6 linked regions of the Homo sapiens genome follow. The protein of the gene in region 3 purifies or fractionates together with the protein of the main gene of each other region. This does not show direct contact. Each region holds a gene or a part of one and is shown on either strand. Other genes may lie near its edges.

What was found.
Region 1: the proteins of GLT8D2 (region 3) and CHST7 purify together in Homo sapiens (affinity purification with mass spectrometry, with the first as the bait; one large-scale study listed by BioGRID). This does not show direct contact.
Region 2: the proteins of GLT8D2 (region 3) and GDPD5 purify together in Homo sapiens (co-immunoprecipitation; one large-scale study listed by IntAct). This does not show direct contact.
Region 4: the proteins of GLT8D2 (region 3) and LRFN3 purify together in Homo sapiens (affinity purification with mass spectrometry, with the first as the bait; one large-scale study listed by BioGRID). This does not show direct contact.
Region 5: the proteins of GLT8D2 (region 3) and CACNA2D1 purify together in Homo sapiens (affinity purification with mass spectrometry, with the first as the bait; one large-scale study listed by BioGRID). This does not show direct contact.
Region 6: the proteins of GLT8D2 (region 3) and QSOX1 purify together in Homo sapiens (affinity purification with mass spectrometry; 3 studies listed by BioGRID and IntAct, with this or other methods). This does not show direct contact.

The regions. Positions count from the first base shown.
Region 1 is NC_000023.11:46,577,393-46,580,892, reverse strand, and holds part of CHST7 (carbohydrate sulfotransferase 7), read right to left. Parts: intron 1-3,500.
Region 2 is NC_000011.10:75,449,442-75,452,941, forward strand, and holds part of GDPD5 (glycerophosphodiester phosphodiesterase domain-containing protein 5), read right to left. Parts: coding exon of another isoform or gene 3,375-3,500; intron 2,891-3,374; exon of another isoform or gene 1,892-2,890; intron 1,793-1,891; exon of another isoform or gene 952-1,792; intron 543-951; coding exon 444-542; intron 170-443; coding exon 76-169; intron 1-75. UniProt on the Homo sapiens protein: Glycerophosphodiester phosphodiesterase that promotes neurite formation and drives spinal motor neuron differentiation.
Region 3 is NC_000012.12:104,047,388-104,051,687, forward strand, and holds the start of GLT8D2 (glycosyltransferase 8 domain-containing protein 2), read right to left. Parts: upstream 2,801-4,300; 5' UTR 2,508-2,800; intron 2,106-2,507; exon of another isoform or gene 2,036-2,105; intron 1-2,035.
Region 4 is NC_000019.10:35,934,884-35,939,173, reverse strand, and holds the start of LRFN3 (leucine-rich repeat and fibronectin type-III domain-containing protein 3 precursor), read right to left. Parts: upstream 2,801-4,290; 5' UTR 1,619-2,800; intron 1-1,618. UniProt on the Homo sapiens protein: Cell adhesion molecule that mediates homophilic cell-cell adhesion in a Ca(2+)-independent manner. Promotes neurite outgrowth in hippocampal neurons.
Region 5 is NC_000007.14:81,964,778-81,968,277, forward strand, and holds part of CACNA2D1 (voltage-dependent calcium channel subunit alpha-2/delta-1 isoform 1 preproprotein), read right to left. Parts: intron 2,887-3,500; coding exon 2,819-2,886; intron 2,431-2,818; coding exon 2,392-2,430; exon of another isoform or gene 2,388-2,391; intron 889-2,387; coding exon 817-888; intron 1-816. UniProt on the Homo sapiens protein: The alpha-2/delta subunit of voltage-dependent calcium channels regulates calcium current density and activation/inactivation kinetics of the calcium channel. Plays an important role in excitation-contraction coupling.
Region 6 is NC_000001.11:180,153,687-180,157,668, reverse strand, and holds the start of QSOX1 (sulfhydryl oxidase 1 isoform a precursor), read right to left. Parts: upstream 2,801-3,982; 5' UTR 2,762-2,800; coding exon 2,497-2,761; intron 1-2,496. UniProt on the Homo sapiens protein: Catalyzes the oxidation of sulfhydryl groups in peptide and protein thiols to disulfides with the reduction of oxygen to hydrogen peroxide. Plays a role in disulfide bond formation in a variety of extracellular proteins.

The sequences.
Region 1 (3,500 bases), on a different chromosome or scaffold from region 3:
TTTAGGGACTTGCCAAAGGTCAATTAAGTAGTAACCAGGAGAGGCAGGCCCTGATGCCTGGGTTCCCATGCCGTAATTCAAAAACTGACTTCATATAGAAAGCAAGGAATGACTGTTACTACTTTATGTCCACCCCTTGCTTTGTAGGACCAGCCTCCTTCCCTGTTCACTCATCAGACTTGACAAGTCTTGACTTTTCCTTAACACCGTATCCATCAGCTGAGGGGTCCTGCCAGGGAAGGCAGGCCCAAATGGGAGCTCCGAGTGCCTTGATCAAAGGTAGCATTAACCTCACAAGGAGCAATAATGATTTGGACATGGATGTATTTTTAAAAATTGTTCACACCTCATTGCAGCCCTGCTACTCAGGTACCTATCCATGTGCACACACACATGCGCACACACACACCATCCTAACTTCCAGCTCTCTGGCTCAAACCTAGCACCCAGGTTGATATGCTATTAGGAGTCTGAAGATAATTTTGTTGAATGAGAAATTCTATATAGGAGCAATGTTTCAAAAATGTCCATTCTGGGCTGGGCACGGTAGCTCACGCCTGTAATCCCAGCGCTTTGGGAGGCCGAGGCGGGTGGATCACGAGGTCAAGAGATCAAGACCATCCTGGCCAACATGGTGAAACCCCGTCTTTACTAAAAATACAAAAAAATTAGCTGGGCATGGTGGCACACACCTGTAGTCCCAGCTACTGGGGAGGCTGAGGCAGGAGAATTGCTTGAACCTGGGAGGCAGAGGTTGCAGTGAGCCGAGATCGCACCACTGCACTCCAGCTTGGCAACAGAGCAAGACTCCATCTCAAAAAAAAAAAAAAAAAATGCCCATTCTTTAGCAGTCTGTGTGTAAGCAACAGCTTCACTTTTCAGTGATATTTATTTATCTTTTGAGACAGGGTCTCTCTCTATCATCCAGACTAGAGCGCAGTGGCGTGATCACAGCTCATTGCAGCCTCGACTTCTTGGGCTCAAGCGATCCTCCTACCTCACCCTCTCAAGTAGCTGGGACTACAGATGCGCGCCACTACCCTCAGCTAGTTTAAAAAAAAATTGTAAAGATGGTGGGGGTTGTCTCACTATGTTGCCTAAGCTGGTCTTGAACTCCTGACCTCAAGCGATCTTCCTGCCTCAGCCTCCCAAAGTGCTGGGATTATAGGTGTGAGCTACTGCACCCGGCCTCAGTGATATTTATACATAAGCCTATATAAAATGTTTGTGGCCCAGTTTCCTGATTAAAATAGATTTTCAAAATGATTTGGTGGTGGTTGATCATTTCTTTTCCTGTTTACATGATTTCTTTAGAAAGAAAGCTTCCTGATTGTTAGGGTTCAAATTACAGGGTGTTTGCCTTCTTTCCTAATTTCTTTCAAAGGATGCATATGTCATGTCAAGAGCAAAGATCAAGGTGCCTTAAATGCCTAGCGGGATGAAACTTTGGGACCTACCAAGGGCAGACATTAAAGGGAGACATGCTGAAAAGGACAGGATAGCACATCAGTCTGTCCAGAACAGTGGTGGATAGTGTACAATGATGGATTATTAGATAATTAGATAATGAGCTACAGACAACAAAGCATGTGAAGGCATGTGAGAGGGTGATAAATGGACCCATGTATAATTGAGGACATTTTCCCCTTTCCATAATAACACTCTACATCTGCTTGGCACTTCATAGCTCCAAGTTCTTTCACATAAATTACTGTGGCAAGCAGTTCAGTGCTCATCAACAGCCCTTTATTCCCCATCCTGATCTTGTTCCGGTGGCAGCCTTCTGGTCCCATCTGGCCCAGGGGATGAACCATGACTGGTCTGAGCCAGAGGTTCTCAGCTTTGGCTATACAGTAGGATCATCTGGGGAGCTTTTCAAACATCCCAGTGCCTGAGTCTGGGGACTCCACTCCAGACTACTTAAATCAGAATCTCTGGGGGTGGAGCTCAGGCATTGGCATTAAAAAAATAAATAAAAAAGCTCCTCATGTAAATGTAATGTTCAGCCAGGGCTGAGAACCGCTGGTCTAAGCCAATCACAATGCTCCCATTCCCTTTCACCAATGATTGGGCTAGGGCAGGCTGTATAACCCAGTTTTAGCTAATGAGACATAAAGGGACGTCGGCTGGTAAAGGGGGTTCTGGGAAAGGTGTTATAATTTATTAAGGCTGGGTGCAGTGATTCACATCCATAATCCCAGCACTTTGAGAGGCCGAGGCAGGCAGATAGCTTGAGCTCAGGAGTACGAGACTAACCTGGGCAACACAGTGAGAGCCCCCACTCCCCGCCCATCCCCAATCTTTGCAAAAAAAAAATTTCTTTTAATGAGATTGAGTGGTGGTGTGCACCTGTAGTCCCAGCTACTTGGGAGGCTGAGGTGGGAGGATTGCTTAACCCTGGGAAGTTGAGGCTGCAGTGAGCCATGACATTGCACTCCAGCCTGGGTGAAAGATTGGATGTGGTGGTACGCACCTGTGGGCCCAGATGCTTGGGAGGCTGAGGTGGGAGGATCACTTGAGCCTGGGAGGAGGAAATTGCAGTGAGCCAAGATTACACCACTGTACTCCAGCCTGGGTGACAGAGTAAGAGCTGCCACTCAAAAAAAAAAAAAAAAAAAAAAAAGAGCATGGCAGGAGGAAAAACCCCTCCACCCCTTACTGGCTAGATAGCTTCCTTCCTTTCTGTATTTTAATAACCCTGTGTCGTTGTGTGAAGATGTTTTGCTTGGAGCTGTGGCTACCATCTTGTTACAGTGGGAAGATAAGCCAGTGAATGAAAGCCAAGATGTAAAAGATAGAAAGGGCCTAGGTCCTTGGTGACTTGGTTCAGGGTGCTACGGCCCCTACCCAGACCAGAAAAAACTTCACTGACTCCCTCACTGCCAAATCCTGGCCATTGGGTATGGACCATCCAGAAGTTACTCAGGTTAATTCACATGTGGCCTCTCTCCTCAGTTGAGCTGAGGGCACCCTGAGATGCCCTGTGGGGAGGATGGCTGTAAAGTTGTCGGCTTTCCTGTGTAGGCACTGTCGGCAGCTCAGGGATATTTTATTTGTTCAGTGGTTGGGACATATTAGTAATAAAGCTGAGTGTGTTTTCCACCTCATACTAGCCTAGCTGGAGTATCAGGGTGCTGCCAGGGAATGCCAAGGCAGGGGCCAGGTGAGGTATAAAAGAGAGGATTATGAGCTCTGGAGTCTAACACCAAACACTGTTCCACCCTCACCAGCCCAGGTATGACTTTGGGCAAATTACTTCTCTGAGTCTCGGATTCCTCATCTGGAAAACTGGTATAAATAATGATATATGTACAATGCCTAACTCAGTGCATGACACATAGCCCTTCAGTAAGGATCCCTCCCCCTCTCTTCTCCTCCCTTCTCTAGAATAGAGTGTGACAAACTTTTGGAAAACCCATCAGTGAGTCGGCAGTAACGTTATCTTCCTAGGAACCAAGAATACAAGCACTGTAATCAACCCACTGATTGGTGGTAAGTGC
Region 2 (3,500 bases), on a different chromosome or scaffold from region 3:
CCAGGTCGGGGCAGCACCAGCTGGTCTTGGCACCTGCAGGGATTGGAGGGGCAGGCCCTTCACAGTTCTACTCACAGGTCCGCTCTGCGCGGGCGAACTGTCCTGCCACGATCCAGGAGAGCATGGTGACTGCTGCCACAGCCCCCACATGCAGGAATGGCGCTGTGCCCTGTTTGCAGGGAGAGGGAAGGGAGACCAGTAACGCCCAGCTCTGCCCAGACCCTGTGTCACCAGCCTCCTACTTCTACCTATGAGGCAGGCAACCCTGTCTCCATCTGCCAACTGGGGACACTGGGAGCCTCAGGACCCTGGTGTCCTCCCTAGTTCTGACCTGCTCTGTGACCCTGGGCGCCTCCCTGCCCTTCTTTGGGCCTTGGTCTGGAGAAAGGGAAGTGACAGAAAGGCTCTTGTTGTGAGGGTCCTGGGGGACCCTCCTCACTCACCTGCAGGGAGATCAGCAGCACCTCCCACTCGTCCTCCCACAGCTGGGCCACGGCCGACATGGCCACCACCGTGGAAGCCAGGATGACCACCAGCCCGATCTGGAGGGGGAAGAGTCACCGGACAGAGGCTCAGAGCGGGTGGGAGGGTTCCCAGTGTGTCTGAGAGAGGAGCCAGAGGGAGAGACAGAGAGGGCAGGAGAGGCCGATGGAGCAGGGCAGAGGGGAGGGAGGAAAGAGACAGGCATGGGCTGCCAGGAAACTAGAGGCCGGCAGATAGACACGGCAGGGAGAGACTGAGGCAGGAGGAGGCAGCAGGAGGCCGGCAGACCCAGCGAGGAAGGGACAGCGAGAAATGGAAGGGAGGATGGGGACAGGAGGAGGAGGGAACTGTGAGGAGGGAGGACATTCAGTAAGGGGGACCTCCCTGGGCCTGGCAGGTTAGTCACATCCAAGGTCCCGCCCAGCCTCCCTGCCACCTCAGCATGGCACAGCAGAGGAGGAAACCCACTTGTCCAGGCCATGCCCAGGCCTCAGGGGAAGGAGGCTGAGGAACTGGGTCTGCTGCAGGAGCCTGGAGTGCAGCCCAGCCTGGCACCCTGGGCTGGGCTCACAGTGGCACTTCAGGCGGGAGTGGGTGGTGAAACACATCGCCACCTGCCCCATCTCCACGGCCTGCCCTCTCCCGGACTCCCAGCATCTAGGTCCGCCGTGATGGGGGCCATCCTCCTTGCAGCCTCCAGAAGAAAGCAAAGCACAGCTCTCATGGAGGATGAGGTGGCACCTCTACGGGACAGAGATCTCTGGTGACAGGTAAGACCTGAAATCTTTAACCACGTGAAGCTCGGCAGAGGTTTTCGGCTCCTCGGCCCCCAGCCCCTCGCCCCTAGCCGTGGATCTCACTCCACCCACCCCCCTCCACACCCCCAGGCGTGCCTCCCCGAAGCCCAGGTTGTGGCTCTCCTCCAAAGCCTCCCGCAGATCCCAGTCTCTGGAAGGGTCAGTCAAAGCCGCCACCTCCGTCCCCCTAGTTTCTCCAGACTCGTCTCCCATCTCCCTCCAAAGGCCTGTCCTTCTCCCACAGCACTGCCGGCCGCCCTGCCTCCCTGGAGCCGTTCTAGCTGCTGGCAGGGCCTTCACCCCCTTTCTCCCGAGGCAACCTTTCCCAGAGGCAGCAGCGGCCAGGGCCCTCTGATGCCGAGCAGGGACAGTGGCATTTCTAGACGATGAGGGTGGGGCGGTGGCCAGCATCTCCGCTCCCTACCCAGGGACCTTCACTCGCCGGCGGGGAATGCTGAGTCTCGCCTGGGATGAAGTTTCCCTTTGGAGGCTTTTCATTCCAGCCCATCAGCCTGGAAACAAATGTTCCCCCAAGAGACCTGAGCGAGGCAGGTGAGGAGCTGGAAGGGCTGTGACATGGGGGCTCGGGGCGGGAAGAGGCATGGGCGTGCCTGGGCCTGTGGGGGCGCTTCGCGTGGTCCCCAGGTTGGTTCCGCGGAGGCACGAGCATCCTCATCTCACACACGGGAAGCGAGGTTCGGGGAGAGGAACAGCTGGCTGGGTCACGGAGCTTTGAAGGGGCAGAACCAGAAACGAACACCTTCTGCCCATCTCAGGGGGTAAGGGGGTGTGCGCTTTCTCGGACAGACAGCACGCTGGTGTCAGAGAGGCTGCGCAGTCTCTGGGAGGCCCAGCTGCGCCTCCGAACCCCTGAGAACCCCGCCCTCGGCACTCAGGCCCCTTCTCCCGGCTGCCCCCGGCGCGCAGCTCCCCCTTGTGGCCATCGTGGGAGGTGGCCCTGCACACAGTGAGTTAAGGATGGTTTCCAGGAGCATCTCATCACAATACCTATTAATGGAAACGACTTGCAATAAAACTGATTCCCCAAACCCTAATACAATTAAAAATGTTATTATCTCTGAGTTCCACAGTTGCTTTGGTGCTAATCAACACACTCAGCAGCATCACTGCATGTTCAGTGTCTGTGGGACTTCCCTACCTTGCATCATTAAGTTATAGCAATAGCACTGACACCCAAAAACGCAACCACCATCGCTCCTGAAATCTGACTGAGAAGGATGAATCCCACCCTAGAGGCCCAGAGACAGATCACCGTCCTCCTCTGAGAAAGTGGCCTTGGGTTCTCTGTCTTCATGGGACTGTGGCTTGTGATAGCCATGGTGGGTACAGGGGATACAACAGAGTCTTTCATTCATTCGATGAGTCTGGCCTAGGTGCCGGGACCCGAGAGGAGGTGGAACCCCGCCTTGCAGAGGTGCAACAGCTGGCCTCTTAGGGGTATCTGGCCTCTGGGTTTTGCAGTCCAAATGGCAGACAGCTGGCCCAGGGTTAAGAGCCTCACTTGAATCACGGTCTTCAGTCGAATCCTGGCTCTGCTACCTACTGGGGATCTTTCCACATCCTCTCCAGGGACCTTTCCAGAGCTGTGAAATAGGGATAGTGAGTACCTACCTGGAAGGGGGTTGGGGAAGATCAGTGAGGAAATGCAAGTGAAATGCTTAGTACAACGGCTGGCCAGAAGAAAATGCTTACTAAATCTCAGTGATATCATTTTAAAAAGTGAGCATGATATGGGAACAGGATTATTGTGAGGAGTGAAATGACTGTGAAATTCTGAGTGAAAGGTGCCTGACACATGTGGTCAGCACCCAATAAAGGATGGTTACTGCTGTTATGGTGAACGCAGTGCCTGGCACACACAGGAGGTGCTCAGTGAATGCGCCTTCCTTAAGCTGCTGCTGGAGGGACAGAGGCTGGACACCAGGAAAAACCATAAAGCTGGGGCCAGTGCATGGAGAGAAGTCTGAATTCACCAGGAGAGGTGATGAAGTAGACATAGCAGATGGCAGGTAGAGGCTGATGGAGCCTTGGTAGGAGGCAGAAGCCCCAGCCCCAGCCCAGCCAGTAACTTGCCTTGGGGCTGTGTGGTACCCAGTGCTCCTCTCTGGGGCTCAGGTTGGGTCGCTGACAGACGCCTCCTCTGTGCAGGTCCTGGGCTGGGGGCTGCTGCCACTGAGGCAGGGGAGTCAGGCGAGGACA
Region 3 (4,300 bases):
TCCACCTCCTGGGTTCAAGTGATTCTCCTATCTCAGCCTTCCAAATAGCTGGGATTACAGGCATGCACCACCACGCCTGGCTAATTTTTTGTATTTTCAGTAGGGACGGGGTTTCTCCATGTTGGTCAGTCTGGTCTCAAACTCCCGACCTCAAGTGATCCACCTGCCTCAGCCTCCCAAAGTGCTGGGATTACAGGTGTGAGCCGCTGTGCCCAGCCTCTTAGGCCTATTTTACAAGGGCACTAATCCCATTGGTGATGGTGCTGCCCTCATGACCCAACCACCTCCCAAAAGGCCCCACTTTCTAGTAGCATCACCTTGGGGGTTAGAGTTTCAACATATGAATTTTGGGGGGACACAAACCTTCAGACCATAGCACTAGGGGTGCAGGACAAGAGAGTCTTCAGTTTATAGAGAATTTGTCTTGCTTTCTCCTGTGCTAGCATGAGAAATTCTTTCACAAAAAGCCTTTAGAGTAGGGGTCAGCAAACTATGACCCCTGGTCAAATCCTGCCTGACACTAGTTTTTGTAAATAAAGTTTTGTTAGAACGTAGCCATGCTTATTTTTTGTTTCTCTGCTGTTTTAATACTGCAACAGCAGAGTTGAACAGTTGCAACAGAAACCATATGGCTTATTATCAGGCCCGTTGCAGAAAAAGTTTGCTGACTTCTGATCTCCAATTTAGGCCAGATTTTCTATATACCAGTACAACACACATGATAATCTTATGTCCTTAACTTGAGAAGGAAAAACAAGGCATCCCCTTGGATGAGCTCCAGGGAAGGTGGAGAATAGGATGTCCAAAAGAGGAACCAAAATGAAAACAAGTGTGTCCAGAATAGCACACCGCAGAGTGTGCTCCTAGAAATGTTAACCTACATTATGTGATAAGGTGGTTCAGCGATCAACTGTTTGGGAATCATTGCGTTAAACAACCTTAAGAGGATTTCTCTACTACAGGACTTCTCAGGACCTTTAAAATGCTATTATGCCTTGCGATCTCTAAGAGGGTAATATAGTTCACAGAGTTTCCCATGGGACTATGTTTTCTCAGAACTTTCTTTGGAAAATGCTGAAATTAAAAAGGATTTAGAATCATTTTCCTCGGGAACTAGAAATGAAAACTATGAGGGCTGTGCCTTAATGAACCTCACATTTTCTCAGCAAGGAAAGAGGAAGCACAAAGAAGAAATAATGAAAGACAGAATGGGAAATAAAAGAAAGAGAGGTGTCTGAAGGAAGAAAGGAAGAAAGCAAAGTGCTGGAGAGATGACATATTAGGGTATGAGGAACACTTGGACCACTGGACTGTCAGAGGGAACCATGGTCAAAAGCAGAGGTGTTGCCAAAAACAGGATGCATGATCACTTTTGTCACCACTGCCATCATCAGCACCATCAGAGAAGCTAACCTTTCCTGAGGCCTAACTACTTTGCAGGTCCTGTATTATGTCCTCTATAGACATTAGGTCATGTAATTTCCATTTTACAGATGAGGAACTAGGGTGCATGCAGTTAAACAATTCACCCGGAGTCGAGCTTAGAAGGTGTGTAAGTGGCAGCATGTAGATTCAGTCCTGTAAGCCTGACCCCAGAGCCTATGTTCTTACCACTGCATTGCACAGTCTACTTCCAAGTGCATTAAAGGGAGAACTGGAATTCCATTATGTAATATAGAAAGGATATTACACAGAAGTGCCACACCAGAACATTTGGAGGAAAAGGAAAAGACAAAAACCAACCAATATCACTTTGGATATTTGGCTGCACAGGGGCCAAACAACGAGAGGACTGATTTTTTTTTTCAAAGCACATCCAGACATTCAGATATCATCATGTTTTCTTTCTCTCACTCTCTCTCAGGTTTTTTTTTTTTTACTCTCATGTTAACTATCCTTCTTATTTCATAAATTATATACCAGGCTTGTCCAATGTGTGACACTTGCTTATAAAGTAAACATAAGATCTTTTTTAATGTTTAAAAAGCATTTTCAACCCAAACACCACGACTACTGTATTTACAATAAGCCTCACTTGGGTTTCCACAACGGCCAGTTCTTTCTGGGGGGATGGAGATCCTCAGAACAGCTTCCTAAGGCAGATTCTGAAAACATGAATCATGCTCAGTTAAATAATTTGTGGCTCAGGACATACCTTCATTAAATAATAGCATTCATCCACATCCTAACTGCTGATTTTTATGTTTAAAATCTGATACAAATAGTAAATTATCATATTTGTGGAGAGAAGGAGGAGAAACCCAGGTCTGGAAAAGCAGCCCAGGATGTGAAAAACATTGCACACTGGATTTGCTGGAAATGGCCGAAAAGGGTTCCGCTGGAATGCTACCAGTTCGGACTGGGAAGTTTCTGAAGGCAAAGTTTGTGTGGGGCAATCTGACACCTCTGATTTACTTTCTTGGGTCTGTAGCAGAATAAAGAACTGCTGCAGACCGGCCAGGATAAAACGGAACGACTGCACACTGCTCGTAAATTTCTCTATTTACCTGGTGAATGGTGAGGGTAGGGCTTTGGGCTCCTCGGTCCAGAAGAGCTGCAAGGCAGAGCGTTCAAATCGTGGCTGGCCCTGGGCTGCCGCCCTCACGCTGCTTCGGCTGCTTCTAAGATCCCATTGGAAGTCCCAAAGGGCTGGAGAGCCCCAAGGCCAATATTACGTTTCCAAAAGAATATTCCTCCCCGACCCGCACTCCCCTTTGCTTGCGTTGACTTCGGAACGTCTCGGGTTTCTTCCACCTCTGCGCGAAGCCGCTGGGAACCCAGGAGTTGCGCTGGCAGAGAGGGGCGGCCCCAGAAACCACTTCCAGATGTGCTCGGCTGGCCGGCTCGGATGCGCCAGACTTCCTCTGGCTAAGTGCAAAACATGCAAAAAACAACGCTGTTCTGGAGGAAAAGACACAAAACCAGAGAAGAGCAAATGCTTTCAGGGTGAATTTCTACCACACGTTGAGTCGAAGGCAAACTTTGAAAGAACACCAGTGAAAAATAAAGTTCATGCTGATTTTGAGAATCTTCATGGCCACTAGCTTCTCCTGAAATCTCCTAGTCATTGAAATGCTGTTGTCCCCAAATCAAAACCCAGGTAACAACTGTGGTCTTCTTCTACCAAGGCAATAATGACAAAAGTTTCAGGATGGAGTGTTTTTGTGCCTGAACAAAAGAGGAATCAGAGAGGAATGAGGCAGGGAGCTGGGAGCTGACCTCAACAGCAATCTGCGCTGTTCTGTATCTCTGCGGTGTGTTCTCAAACCCGGGAGATGGTGCCAGCACTTTGTCTGGGATCACAGAATTTATTTCTGCAATGGCTCCTCTTCCTATTTCCTATAAGGATATAAGGATCTCCCTGCTCACTGTCTCTTTCTAAAGTGGTGCTCTCCAACAGAAATAAAATGCAAGCCACCCTGTAATTTTACTTTTTTTTTTTTTTGAGACGGAGTCTCCCTCTGTCTCCCAGGCTAGAGTGCAGTGATGAGATCTCGGCTCACTGCAACCTCCGCCTCCCCGGTTCAAATGATTCTCCTGCCTCAGCCTCCCGAGTAGCTGGGATTACAGGCGCCCACCACTACACCCAGCTAATTTTTGTATTTTTAGTAGAGATGGGGTTTCGCCATGTTGGCCAGGCTGGTCTCAAACACCTGACCTCAGGTGATCCGCCGCCTCAGCCTCCCAAAGTGCTGGGATTACAGGCGTGAGCCACCTCATCCGGCCAATTTTACTTTTTTTTTTTTTTAAAGAGACAGGGTCTTGCTCTGTTACTCAGGCTGGAGTGCAGTGGCGTGATCACAGCTCACTGCAGCCGTGAACTTCAAGGTTCAGGCGATCCTCCCGTCTCAGCCTCCTGAGTAGCTGAGATTACAGGTGCACATCACTACACCTGGCTATAATTTAAAATTTTCTAGTAGCCACATTAAGAAAAAAGTACAAAGAGGTAAAATTTATCTTAATGATATATTTTACTTTACCCAATATATACAAGATGTTATCATTTCAACACATAATATAAAACATTATTAAGAAGATGTTTTATGTTCTTTGTTTTGTCTTTAAATTTAATTTGTTTTGATACATATTCATGTAATAATTGTACATATTCATGGGGTACATATTGATGTTTCAATATACAATGTATAGTGATCAGAACACTGTAATTAGCATATCTATAATCTCAAATATTGATGCTTATGTTGGAAACATTCAATATCCTCCTTCTAGCTCTTTGAAGCTATATATTATTGTTAACTATGGCCATACTACACTAGAACCTATTCCTCCTATCTAGCTA
Region 4 (4,290 bases), on a different chromosome or scaffold from region 3:
GGCAACAAAGTGAGACCGTGTATCTATTATACAAAAATTTTTAAAAATTAGCTAGGCATGGTGGCGCCCACCTGTGGTCCTAGCTACATGGGACACTGAGGTGGGAGGATCAATTTGAGCCCAAGAATTTGAGGCTGCAGTGAGCTATGATTGCGCCACCACACTCCAGCCTGGGCAACAGAGCGTGACTCTGTCTCTCCAAAAGAAAAAAGTAAAGAAATGGTCAGAGAAATGACAGCTGGTCTGGGTGAGTGGCAGGAAAACCAGAGGGCTTTAGACGTGGTCAGAGATGGTAAAAGCTGGCCATGGGGAGACGGGGCAGCCAGGGTGGCAACAATGATCAGAAGTGGTCAGATATGACCAGAGAAGAGAAGGGGTTACAGATGGTCAGGAAGATGAGCAGTGGACAAAGAGAAGGGAGGGCATGGGTTGGGCTCAGATCTGGGGGAGATGACCATGTCAGAGACACGTGGTCAGAAACGGCCCAAAGCCAGCAAGGTGGTCAGAGAGGAGGAAAAGGACAGACATGGCAGAGTCAGTGGGAGCCCAGGACAGCTGCTCAGGAGGATGGTGCGGGGAGAGGTCATCGGAGAGAGGAAAGGCAGCAGAGATGTTCGAGATGATCAGAGGGCATCAGCAAGTGAGAGAGGAGAGGTGGCCAGAGATTATCAGAGGGCATCAGTGAGTGAGAGAGAGAGAAGAGGTGGCCAGAGATGATCAGAGGGCATCAGCGAGCGAGAGAAAAGAGGTGGGCAGAGATGATCAAGAGGGCATCAGTGAGTGAGAAAGAGAGAAGAGGTGGCCAGAGATGATCAAGAGGGCATCAATGAGTGAGAGAGAGAGAAGAGGTGGCCAGAGATGATCAGAGGGCATCAGTGAGTGAGAGAGAGAGGAGAGGTGGCCAGAGATGGTCAGACAGTTGCAGACTGGGAGTTAGGGTCAGGGGTGGGAGGAGGGCAAGAGCAGTGGGAGAGATGGCCAGAGAAAGGGAAAGGTGGCCAGAGGAAGCTAGAGAGGAGAGATGGACAGAGGCTGCTGGAGAGAAGAGTGGTGGACAGCAATGTCAAAGATGGATGGGGACGGTCACAGACCTAGGCTTAGATTCAGGGGTGGAGAAGGAGCAAGAGAGCTGGTGAATGATGATTAGAGAGAGGCACAGTGGACACAGATGTCAGCGATGGTCACTGAGAAGCAGCAGGCAGAGGCGACTGGAGAGAGGACCTGTGGACAGGGGTGTCACAAAGATGATCAGAGAGAGAAAAAGGGAACAGAGATGGCCATTGAGAGGACAGGTGGAGAAAGGAGCCCAGAGAGAGGAGTGGTGGACAAGAGAGGTGGCGGAGACGGTCGGACCGGATAGACAGCGAAAGGCTGTAAGGGTTGCAGGGGTCAGAGACCTGGAGGTCCCATCAACTGAGGCAGGGAAGGTCAGAGAGGGGCAAGGATGGCCAGTGTCCAGAGAGTGTTTGGAGCAGAGCAGGAGCTGAAGGCAGACCCATGGGGGAATGTCTTTTTTTCTGGAGAAACCCCAAGAGTGTCAAAGGGTACCTGGTACCGTAACCCGCAGCCACAATGCTCCTCCCAGCCCGTCCCCACCTTGAGGTTTCAGCAGCCTTACCTGAGCTAGAAGCAGCCCCAGGGAGCAGAGTCCTAGCTCCAGGGGAGTCAGAGGTCAGGGCTCTGGAGGGAGCATCTGGTCATGCTTTTCCTGTCCCCAAGGCTTCTGTAGAGGGACTGTGTCCTGACTCGGCTCAAATCTGTGGCAACGGAGTCTCCAGACCTTAATACTCGGGGTTCCAGACCCCTAAATATTGGGCCTCTAGGGTCCAGTTTTACGGGTCCAGTTTGGGTTGTTCAGGGTCAGGGTCTCCCAGGTCCAGTCTTGGGATGCTAAGCAGCCAAACGGTGGGGTTTAGAGTCTGAGATCCGATCCCGGGGTTCTGCATTCAGATATTGGGGTGCTGAGTCAAGATTGGGAGGTCTCAAGCCCCAGATTTAAGCACTCAGGTCTGCAGCAAGGACTTCAGGCCCAAACTCGGGTTCAGGCCCCTTGGAATCCCACAGTCCAGATCTTGGAATTTGAGGCCTGAATCCCAGGGTTCAGGTCCCCAAGAGTGGGTTCCAGGGTACAGTACTGGAAATCCAGTCCCAGATTTCAAGGTCCCAGGCCCAGAATTCAGAGTTCAGCTCCAGGCTTGAGGTTTTAGATGTCAAATCTTGGGGTTCTGCTCCAAATATTGGGGTCTGTGTTCCAAATTGTGGGGTTCCGGCTCCAAATATTGAGGTCCCAGTGACCGATGTTGAGATTCCAGCCCCATATACTGGGGTTCAGGCTCCAGATCTTGGGGTTCCACGGCCGGATCTCGGGGTGCTGGTCCCAGATCAGGGTTCCAGGCTCGGGTTTCCGGAATTCCCGATTCAATCTGGGGGTGCAGGCCCCCGAGGTGGAGGTTAGGGCGCGGGGTCCGGGGCGGCGGCGTCCCGGCTGGCTTCCTGGGCTGCGGCGGAGGCTGACTGGGAGGGAGGGGACCGGCTGCGGTGGGGAGGGGGGCGACCGGGCAGCCCCAGGGCCGGGTGGGGCGAGGCCTGGGAGCGGAGGGACGGTCAGACAGACTGGGACACGCGGGATGGGGGCACCGCAGCGCAGGCGGGGGCGCAGGGGGGAGGGGCCGCGCTCAGAGACCCCTCCCCCGCCGGGGCCGAGGCGGGGGCCGGGCGGGGGCCGGGCTGGGCGGGCCGGGTCCAGGCGCTCCCGCGGCCTCCTCGCCGGCAACCCAGGGCAGCGCGCGCACCGGCGCTTAAAGGCGCAGGCTCCGCGCGCACCCGCGCTTAAAGGCGTAGGCACCCGCCCCTTCTCTCAAAGACGCGCCCCGGCCCCACCTCCCATGGAGTCGCACTGGCGCTGCTGGGAAAGAGAATCCCTGGATACAGAGAGACTGAGACAGAGAGACAGAGAAGAACGGAGATACAGAAAGGCAGACAAAAAGATGGGCAGGCTTAGATTGATGGATAGAGAGGAGAAAATGGAAAGAGGCAGAGAGACAGATTGAAACACACACATATTCGAGACATGGAAATGCACAGAGACAGCGAGACACAGAGAGTGATGGAGAGACAAGAGATAAGGACAAGTCAGAGAAAGACAGAAACAGAGATAGAGACGTGCGTGCGCGCGCACACACAGACACACACATACACACTCACACGCTCTAAGACGCAGCACCTGGGCTGTGAGAATGGTATGTGTGTATGTGCATTCAGTAACTATTCCTAGCCTTGAGTGTAGCGCTTCATTCCAGAGCCACTGGCCCCCCAAACCTGTCTCTTTCTGCCCCCCTTATCTCAGCACCACCTCCCTGGAATGTCCTTTCCACGGTTGGAGTTTCCTTACCTGGCCATGCCCAGCAATAGGCTTGATCTTTCAGGCCAGAGGGGCTCCTTCCCAAGGCTCCTTTCTCTGCCTGCAAGAGGGAAAACTTGTGCCATCTGGGATTAGGGAAAGACCTCAAGACACACTGACAGCCGGGGGCGGTGGCTCACGCCTGTAATCCCGGCTCGTTGGGAGGCCAAGGCGGGCGGATCTTTTGAGATCAGGCGTTGGAGACCAGCCTGGCCAACATGGAGAAACCCCGTCTCTACTAAAAATACAAAAATTAGCCGGGTGTGGTGGCGGACGCCCGTAATCCCAGCTACTCGGGAGGCTGAGGCAAGAGAATTGCTTGAACCCGGGAGGTGGAGATTGTAGTGATCTGAGATCCAGCCATTGCACTCCAGCCTGGGTGACAGAGTGAGACTCTGTCTTTAAAAGAAAGAAAGAAAGAAAGAAAAGCAGAGAGGGATGCCTTGCCTTGCAGGAGCCAGGCCAGGTGTCCTTGCAGTGCAGCCCACCAGGATCACCCGGGGGCACCATAGATCTCCAGGTCCCAACCTCAGAGTTTCTGGTTCAGTGGGTCTGAGGTGGGACCCAAACATTTGCATTTTTAACGAGTACCCAGGTGATGCTAATGTGACTTTTCAAAGACCATACTTTTTTTTTTGAGACAGGGTCTTGCTTTGTCACCCAGTACATTGGTGCAATCATAATTGACTGCAACCTCAAATTCCTGGGCTCAAGCAATCCTCCCACCTCAGGCTCCAGAGTAACTGAGACTACAGGCATGCATCGCCATATCCAGCTAATTTTTAAAATTTCTTGTAGAGACAGGGTCTCAATATGCTGCCCAGGCTGGTCTTGAACTCTTGGCCTCAGGCAATCCTCCCTCCCAGGCCTCCCAAAGTGTTGTGATTACA
Region 5 (3,500 bases), on a different chromosome or scaffold from region 3:
TGATGAGAGTAGATTTTAAGTCTTCTTACCATACCGCAAAAAAGGTTAACAACCTGAGATGATGGATATGTTAATTGGCTTGACGCAGTAATCACTTAACTATGCAAATCAAAGCTTTTTTTTGTACACCTTAAACATATACAATAAAAAAAAGATCAAATGCCCCCCTGGGGAATGGAAAAGTGGCATAAATGAGAGAGCAGGCTGGCCTAGAAAACGAACTTGTAGGGGCTGTGATGAACTGGAACAAGTCCCATCTAAAGGGGCAATCATGAGTGAATCAGCTCCACCCCATAAATCCTGTCATCCAGAAAAAAAACAAACAAAGCCCAGGGTTGAGATATTTTTGCTTTGTTTTTTCAAAAGAAAGAAGCCAGGAATGCAGATTCAGAAGTGAAATTAGTTGGCATCTACTTCAAATTTGTTAAAAATAGCCTATGTGCTGCTCATTTGCAGGTTTGAGACTAGAAATCACATCAGTTTTAACAAGCTATATATTAAATTAGATACCATCAACTGACAAATGTTGAAGTGAAAGTTTTCTAAATATCAGAAAGATTAAAAGTTCATGTCATGCTAAAATCCTTAACTGTATGTTTTAATGATACCAGTACTAAAATGTAAAATCAAATAACATAAAAACTAGACTTAGCATGCATTTCTTAATGGTTTACATAACATTAAGCATTTTACAAATTATTGTATGACAGAAATAAAACAACTCATCGATTTCTAAAACACTGAAAGAGGTTTTGTAATGTTGATCCGGGAAACACACTTTGGAAAGCCTAATTCCCTCTTATTTGAGGTACATACCTGATTAGTATAATCATCATGATTTGCCATCAGAAGAAACCCACCATCATCCAGAATCACACAATCCATTACCTATCAAAATAAAGTGAACAGTTAACACATTTTTAGAAAGGTTAGGAGGCTGCATTGTCTTTACCCCATTATATACATGATTAGAGCAATAAAAATAGAAAATTTTAAATGCCTATCTTCTCTTGAACATATATGTTCATTAAATTCTGGTGAAATAAAGGCATGCATAGATTTATATCAAACCATCAGGCTTGATAATCCAACACCAACCATCCACTTGAGACTGTCAATTCAGTCTGAACAAATCAGAAGAGCAAATTAGAAATAATCTTTTTACCATTTCCGGGTCATCTAAATGATCCAGAAAACTGGATAGAGAAAATTATTTAATAATGAGTAACTGATTTAAACACATACTTAGGATTTTGACAAAAAGATATTTTAAAAAAATATCATTTTAGTTGTCCTGTTTCACAGACTTAAAACACATCAGTACTATAAGACTATTTATAATTATTTCATATTTTAGATTAAAAATATGTAGTTGGATAATTGGAGATTTAAAAGCAAAACGCAAAACAAAAAATGTCCATGGTTAATACTTACTTCACCCTGAAACACAGGATAAATTCCCACCTAGTTTAAATCATGTTTTAATGTATGAAAATCAATATAATAATTTGTATTGAATAAAAATCACAAATAAAAACATGGTTTTCAAAGTTGAGGATGTAATGCATTGCATTTTCCTAATGTGGAAGCAGTTTATTACTAAAATATTTGCTCTTAAAACAGCTACTGCATAGTCTATGTGAAATAGATAAGTTACAAAAATCATTAAAATTATTGGCTCATAATTTCACAGGAGTAGGAGTGATAAAGACGATATGAACCCCCTGCTTCCCTTGGAGATATACAGACACACAAAAGAGGACTGGAAGAAAATATTGTTTCATCATTGTTATTCAATTTTTAGAATTATTTATCTAGTATCATTCTTAGAGCATCTTCAACTTTTGAACAAAGTTCACATTTCCTTTTTCAATTTCTCAAACAGAAGTGAAAGTAATACAAGACACCTTAAAACTCAATCCATGTAACTATAACTTTATAATAAACTGTAATACTTCCAGGTTTAGTTAAAACATTTTTCCTGTAACTATATAATACAGTGTGAACAAATTTAGAGAAAGTGTGATAGGTGAGAGAAAACTGCATTGATAACCAATAGGGTTGCTTTGGTTAGAAACTTCCTATCCAGAAATAGAGCTAAAGATAAATATGTACAAAAGAATGTAACACAGTTGAGACCGAAGAGAACCATCATATTGACATGACCATTTTTTTACCTTCCAAGGATACATACATATTTTTAAAAATTCAAGCACTTTACATTCAAAATCAAAAGCATACAAATTCAAATGAATATATTATTTCACATTTCCATAGAATTTTTTAGCCTTTGATTAAAAAATTCCTGCATATTTTTTCATCACTATAGTCTTAGCAAGAGTAACACAAGGAAATATTGTACTCAAAAGTGATTTTAAATAGTTTTCTTACGTCACTGTTTCTTTTGCAGTCACAAACTGGACCAGCACACTGAAAGACAAAAATGCGATTATCACCTCACTTTTAAAAGTTGGATTTTAATTATATTATTACCATGTTATAATTAGAAATTCTGAAATAATTTATCCAGTAGAAAAATAAGATTAAACAGTCTAGTCTATAAGAAACAAAAGTTTTATCTTATTAGACAATGTCAATCAATATATAAACTAGCATTGCATGTTATAACCTTGAAATACTTCTATTACATATTGACTAATTTAAACAAAAAAAGCTTTGAAAAAATAGGAATTCAGAATTCTACTTCAGTGTAGTGGTATTGAGAATGTATTTGCCACTGTATAAGGACCTTATATTTTTTTCTATTGAATTTTGAAAACATTAAACATAGCATAAGAATTTTTTAAAAATATCTTACCGGATCTCTGATTGAGGTTTTGGTGAAATTCTCTATCCAGGAATTTACATCAATTTTAATTCCAACAACTGAAAAATTAATTTGAATTAATTCAAAGGTATAATTAGATGTAATACAACCTTTGCAATATGACAGTTATTTTGATAGCAAGTATCAGACTATAGTTTATTACAGAAGTTTTAGTTTTGTGTTCATTAAGAAATAATGCTAATAGCTCTTAAACTATTACATAAATTGTAACATATTCACAAAAGAGTGTATTCATTAGCCACAACCTGACCAATTAACTAATACAATAAGCTAAATAAAAAACAGTAGTGTCAGGAGAGCCTCATAAACTTGAGGTCATTCAAACGGTATATTTTAAGATGTTTCCCTAACCCCACCAGTGCTTGCAGTAGGTGCTTAATAAATCTTTGCTGAAAGAGTGAACAGATGAATGGATGAGTAGGTGGGTTAGTAGGAGAGTGGGTGAATAAATGAATGGCTGAGAGAATAACTGATTTAGTAAGTAATTGAGCAATTGAGTGAATGAAGGAATAGGTAAGTGAGTTAGTGAGTAAGTGATGGAGTGAATTCATGTAATAGATCCGCTGATGGGGTAAAGCTGTCCTCAGGAGCAGGAAGGCTCAAAATACTCTCCTTTAAAACTTCAAACACTGAATCATACAATCAAAAAAAC
Region 6 (3,982 bases), on a different chromosome or scaffold from region 3:
GCTCTGCCCCGGGGCAGCAGGTGCCTAGAGAATCTACTGCCCTAGTCACTGAAGAAATGAACCCTATTCAGTCAGATTAAATGCCTGAAGCCAGCCAAATATGGCTGCAAAATTCTTCTCTCTCCCTGTGACCTTCACTCTGTCTCTGTTCCTGCCTCAAGATACAGGTGTCCTCAGCAGAGAGCATGGGCAGTACTCACACAGCCCAGGGTGGGATGAGCACAGCCCTCTGCGGGCCCACAACCAACCTTTCTCAAGAAACCTCAGGACACAGAGATGAAGCGAGACCAACCCTAGCTTCTCAGCAGGGCCTCACCAGGGAACACCCCTTTGGGTTAGAGTGGAGGACATTCTTCATTGCAGGCTGACAGCAGATTCTGCCAGTGCCCTCCCAACACGATCTGGCTCAAGGACTGACTCACACCAATGGCTCACAGGAGACCTCCAGTTTCCACTGAAATCTCCCACCTCCCATTTACCCTGGCTCACCCCCACAGACTTTGATCCTTCCATTTCCTTTTCAGAGGTTAAATTCTGATTTCGCTTTCTTATTTTAGAGAAAGGCTCCATGCACTGGGGAATCCTGTTTGGAAGTGGTAACCCTCATCCAGGAGCAGAATGGGTCAGTATCTAGACATGCAACTCATAGGAAAACTAAAAACTCTGCATTGCAAGAGGCCAAACATGTGAGTCAGCTGGAAGCTAATCTTTCCCCCCAGCACTCTCAAGAAGGAAGAAATTCTAGAATAAGTCCATCTGCAGCCACTGAACACCTCTTATAACCTCAAAGTGGAAAGCGATCTGGGAATTTTTATGATGTTCATGCCCACAATGTCCCCTGAGATTACCTTATCTTAGGTGTTCCAGTTCCATGATCCATGTTCTTCCTCCCTCCTCCCCTGACCAGATGTGTTGACATCACTCCTCCCCTGACCAAATGTGTTGAAATGGTGTGAAGCACTGCTCAGAAAGGCACGTTCAGCTAATGGGACCAGTGAGGCATGTAGGCAAGTGTAAACTGGAGGTCAAAACAGCTTATAAGTTTCATTTAAAAATAATTTTCCAGGACCATATGGCTAAAAGATGTACACATGGTTCCATCTCGCCTCTTCAGAAACCAATCTGCAAGCTGCTCAGGAAAAGAGGAGGGTGAGTCTGAAAACTAACATCTACAAAGGCACTGTTCTACCACAAAGAGTTGAATTTATCAAGAAATACCAACAGTGGAACAATGGTTCCAGTTCCCCTTTCTCTAGAAAAAGGCCTATTTCCAAAGATGCCCACAGTTCTCATTCAATGACCATTTCAGGGTAGGAGGCCGTGCTAGCGACCTAGCACCAGAGTCAGGAAGTAACTCCATTCAGAGGCAGCAAGTCAGGAACAAATCACTATCACTATACCACTCCTGCCCGCCAAATACCCACTACCTGGATTAGGTGGATGTGTGACACCACAGGAATCTTTAAATTGTGGAAAGGAAACTATGAGACAATGTATGCCGAGTACTTAGTAAGGTGCCTGAAATGATAGGTGCTCCGTAAATATTAATTACTATTATTACCATATTTCCTCGACTCTAAGTCTTAAGTGTTTCAAAATTTTAGCATTTCTGTAATAGAGTTCACCTTCAAATCTTTATACATGTAGTGGTTTTTTCCTATCCTTCTACCCCTTGGGCTGTCATAAAATGAACAGTGTGTCTCACAGTTGATGGTGTCTTGGAATTCAGGAAATATAGTTTTGGTGCCCCAACCAGGGATTGGGAACATGGAGCAAGAGCCAAACACGCACCAAAGGCCTCTGGGTGCATGGGTTTAAAATATAAGGGTCTGAGCGGGGGAAGAGAGAGAAGGATGTGGCCCAGAAGCTAAGGAGCTGGAGGCGGCAGGTCAGGAGAGGCCCGGAACAGAGATAGGAAAACTGCCAGGTGGACATACCCACATCAAAGACAAAAATGAGAAAGGAAGTCTATGTACCACCTGGTCAACCAGTCGAGGGAGTGGAGAAAGGTGGCAGGGAGGCAAAATGGATGTCCGTTCCCTTTTCTCCCCAGCACTGACCCACAGCAGCTAGGGAACCTGGCAGGAAGATGACATGGGTCCCTGGACGAGAGGAAGAGGACTGCCACAAGGCTGGCCCAGGAAACGGTAAGGTGTCAGCGGACCATGCGGAGGAAGGAACAAAGGAGACCTCTCGCAGGGAAGGAGGCAGTAACCTGGCGGGGGACGAACCGGGCGAGCAGGGCAGGTCTGGGGGCCCAGGCCGCGGAGAGGGAAAGAAGCTCGGGATGAGGGCCAAGAGGAAAAGGCAAGGGAGCGGGAGGCAAAAATGGAGCTGAGAAACATGAAGGTGGTGGGCGTGGGATGCGCGGAGAGGAAGAGGTGGGCGGAGGTGACTGGAAGAGGGACGCGCTCCCGGAGTAGGAGGCTGCCCACCGGGCAGGTGGAGGGGTCCGGGCGGCGGGGCACGGGGGAGCGGGCCGCCCCCGCTTCTCACCTTTGACGTCTTCGGCCAGCGCCTTCCACGTCGGGGCGAAGGCGATGCAGTGGCCGCACCAGGAGGCGAAGAACTCCACGGCCCAGGCGCTGCGGGAGCCCAGCACCGCGCCGCGCACCGTGTCCGCCTGCAGCAGCGTCAGCGGGTCGGAAGGCGAATAGAGCGCCGACCGCGGGGCCGCGTTAGCGCCGGGAACCGCGAGCAGCCACAGCAGCAGCAGCAGCAGCGACGGCGGCGGCCCGGAGCCGCTGTTGCACCTCCTCATCCTCGGCGCTGCGCTCACCACCACACGCAAGCACCGGATGAGTCGGGTCCCGGCGCCGCGGCACCGCCTGCCTCCGCCCGCAAGGAGGAGCCACGTGGCCCCGCCCCTGAGCCCCCGCCCCCGAGCCCCCGCCCCCGAGGCCGGCCCAGCCACCCCGCCCCGCCGGCCGCTCCTGGGCGCGGGAGCGGGCGGGGCTGAGCTTGTTGCAGGGGCTGGCCCTGGCCGGGTGGTGAGCCATCCTTTCGCGGTCCGCCGAGGCCTCGGAGCAGCGCGACCCGGGTTCCCGCCTCAGGCCCCAGGAGGCGAGGTGTACAGTCCGGTAAAGGAATGGAGCGCCCGCCGAGCGGTCGCTGCGGGGGTAGCCTCGCGGAGGTTGTTTGGCCTCTCACGGCCCCCGTATCCAACGGAAGAGGAGTCCGTTGGAATAGACGACCCGGATTTCGGCTGTTGTAGGGCAGTTCCTGGGCTCCCGCGGAGCGATGAGACGTTGTGAATTAGATGTGAGAAGAGGGACGCTTGGTCTGCGACCACCAAGACCCCACAGGATCGATGCACCCACCCCTGCTGATGACCATGACCATCTAAAGGGGAACATCATTTGAGGGGCCCTACTCATGGATCAGAAGCCCCTCTTCACTGTGGGGTGTGCTGGGTTGGCGGGCAGTTGCCGTGGAATCAGTTTCCTCAGGACCCATATCTGACCACCCTCATAAGGTTGTCAGGGCGATTCCAACATTCGGGGTTCCCAGCAGCCCAGATCCCCCACATCCAGCTCTTCAGCCTACTCAGAGCTCTCCACGCTCACTCACATGTCCCTCTCGCAAGTAGCCCGATCAACTCACCTGGTGTCATGGGCACTAAGGTGTTAATGGATTTTCTCTGGTCACCTTTGCAGCTCCACTGTTTTGAGTGAGTTATTTTAAGGGGAGAAGGTGCTCCTCAGACGGTTGTCACAGTGATATTTTTCCTTTGTGACTGCCAGGTTAGCCCCTTTCACCTGTAAGAGCTTTGAGCCTAGATTTGTTATTCATTTATTCAAGTTTTACTGAGTGGTGTCATGCCAGGCACTTGTTTAGGTATAAGGATAAGGCAGTAAACAAAATATAGACTCTAGGGACGTGGAACTTACATTCCAGTGGGGGTAAAGAGATGATACATAAGTAAATGTAGATCAGATGGTGACCGATGTTATGAAGAAATGTAGACTGGGGTAAGAATAGA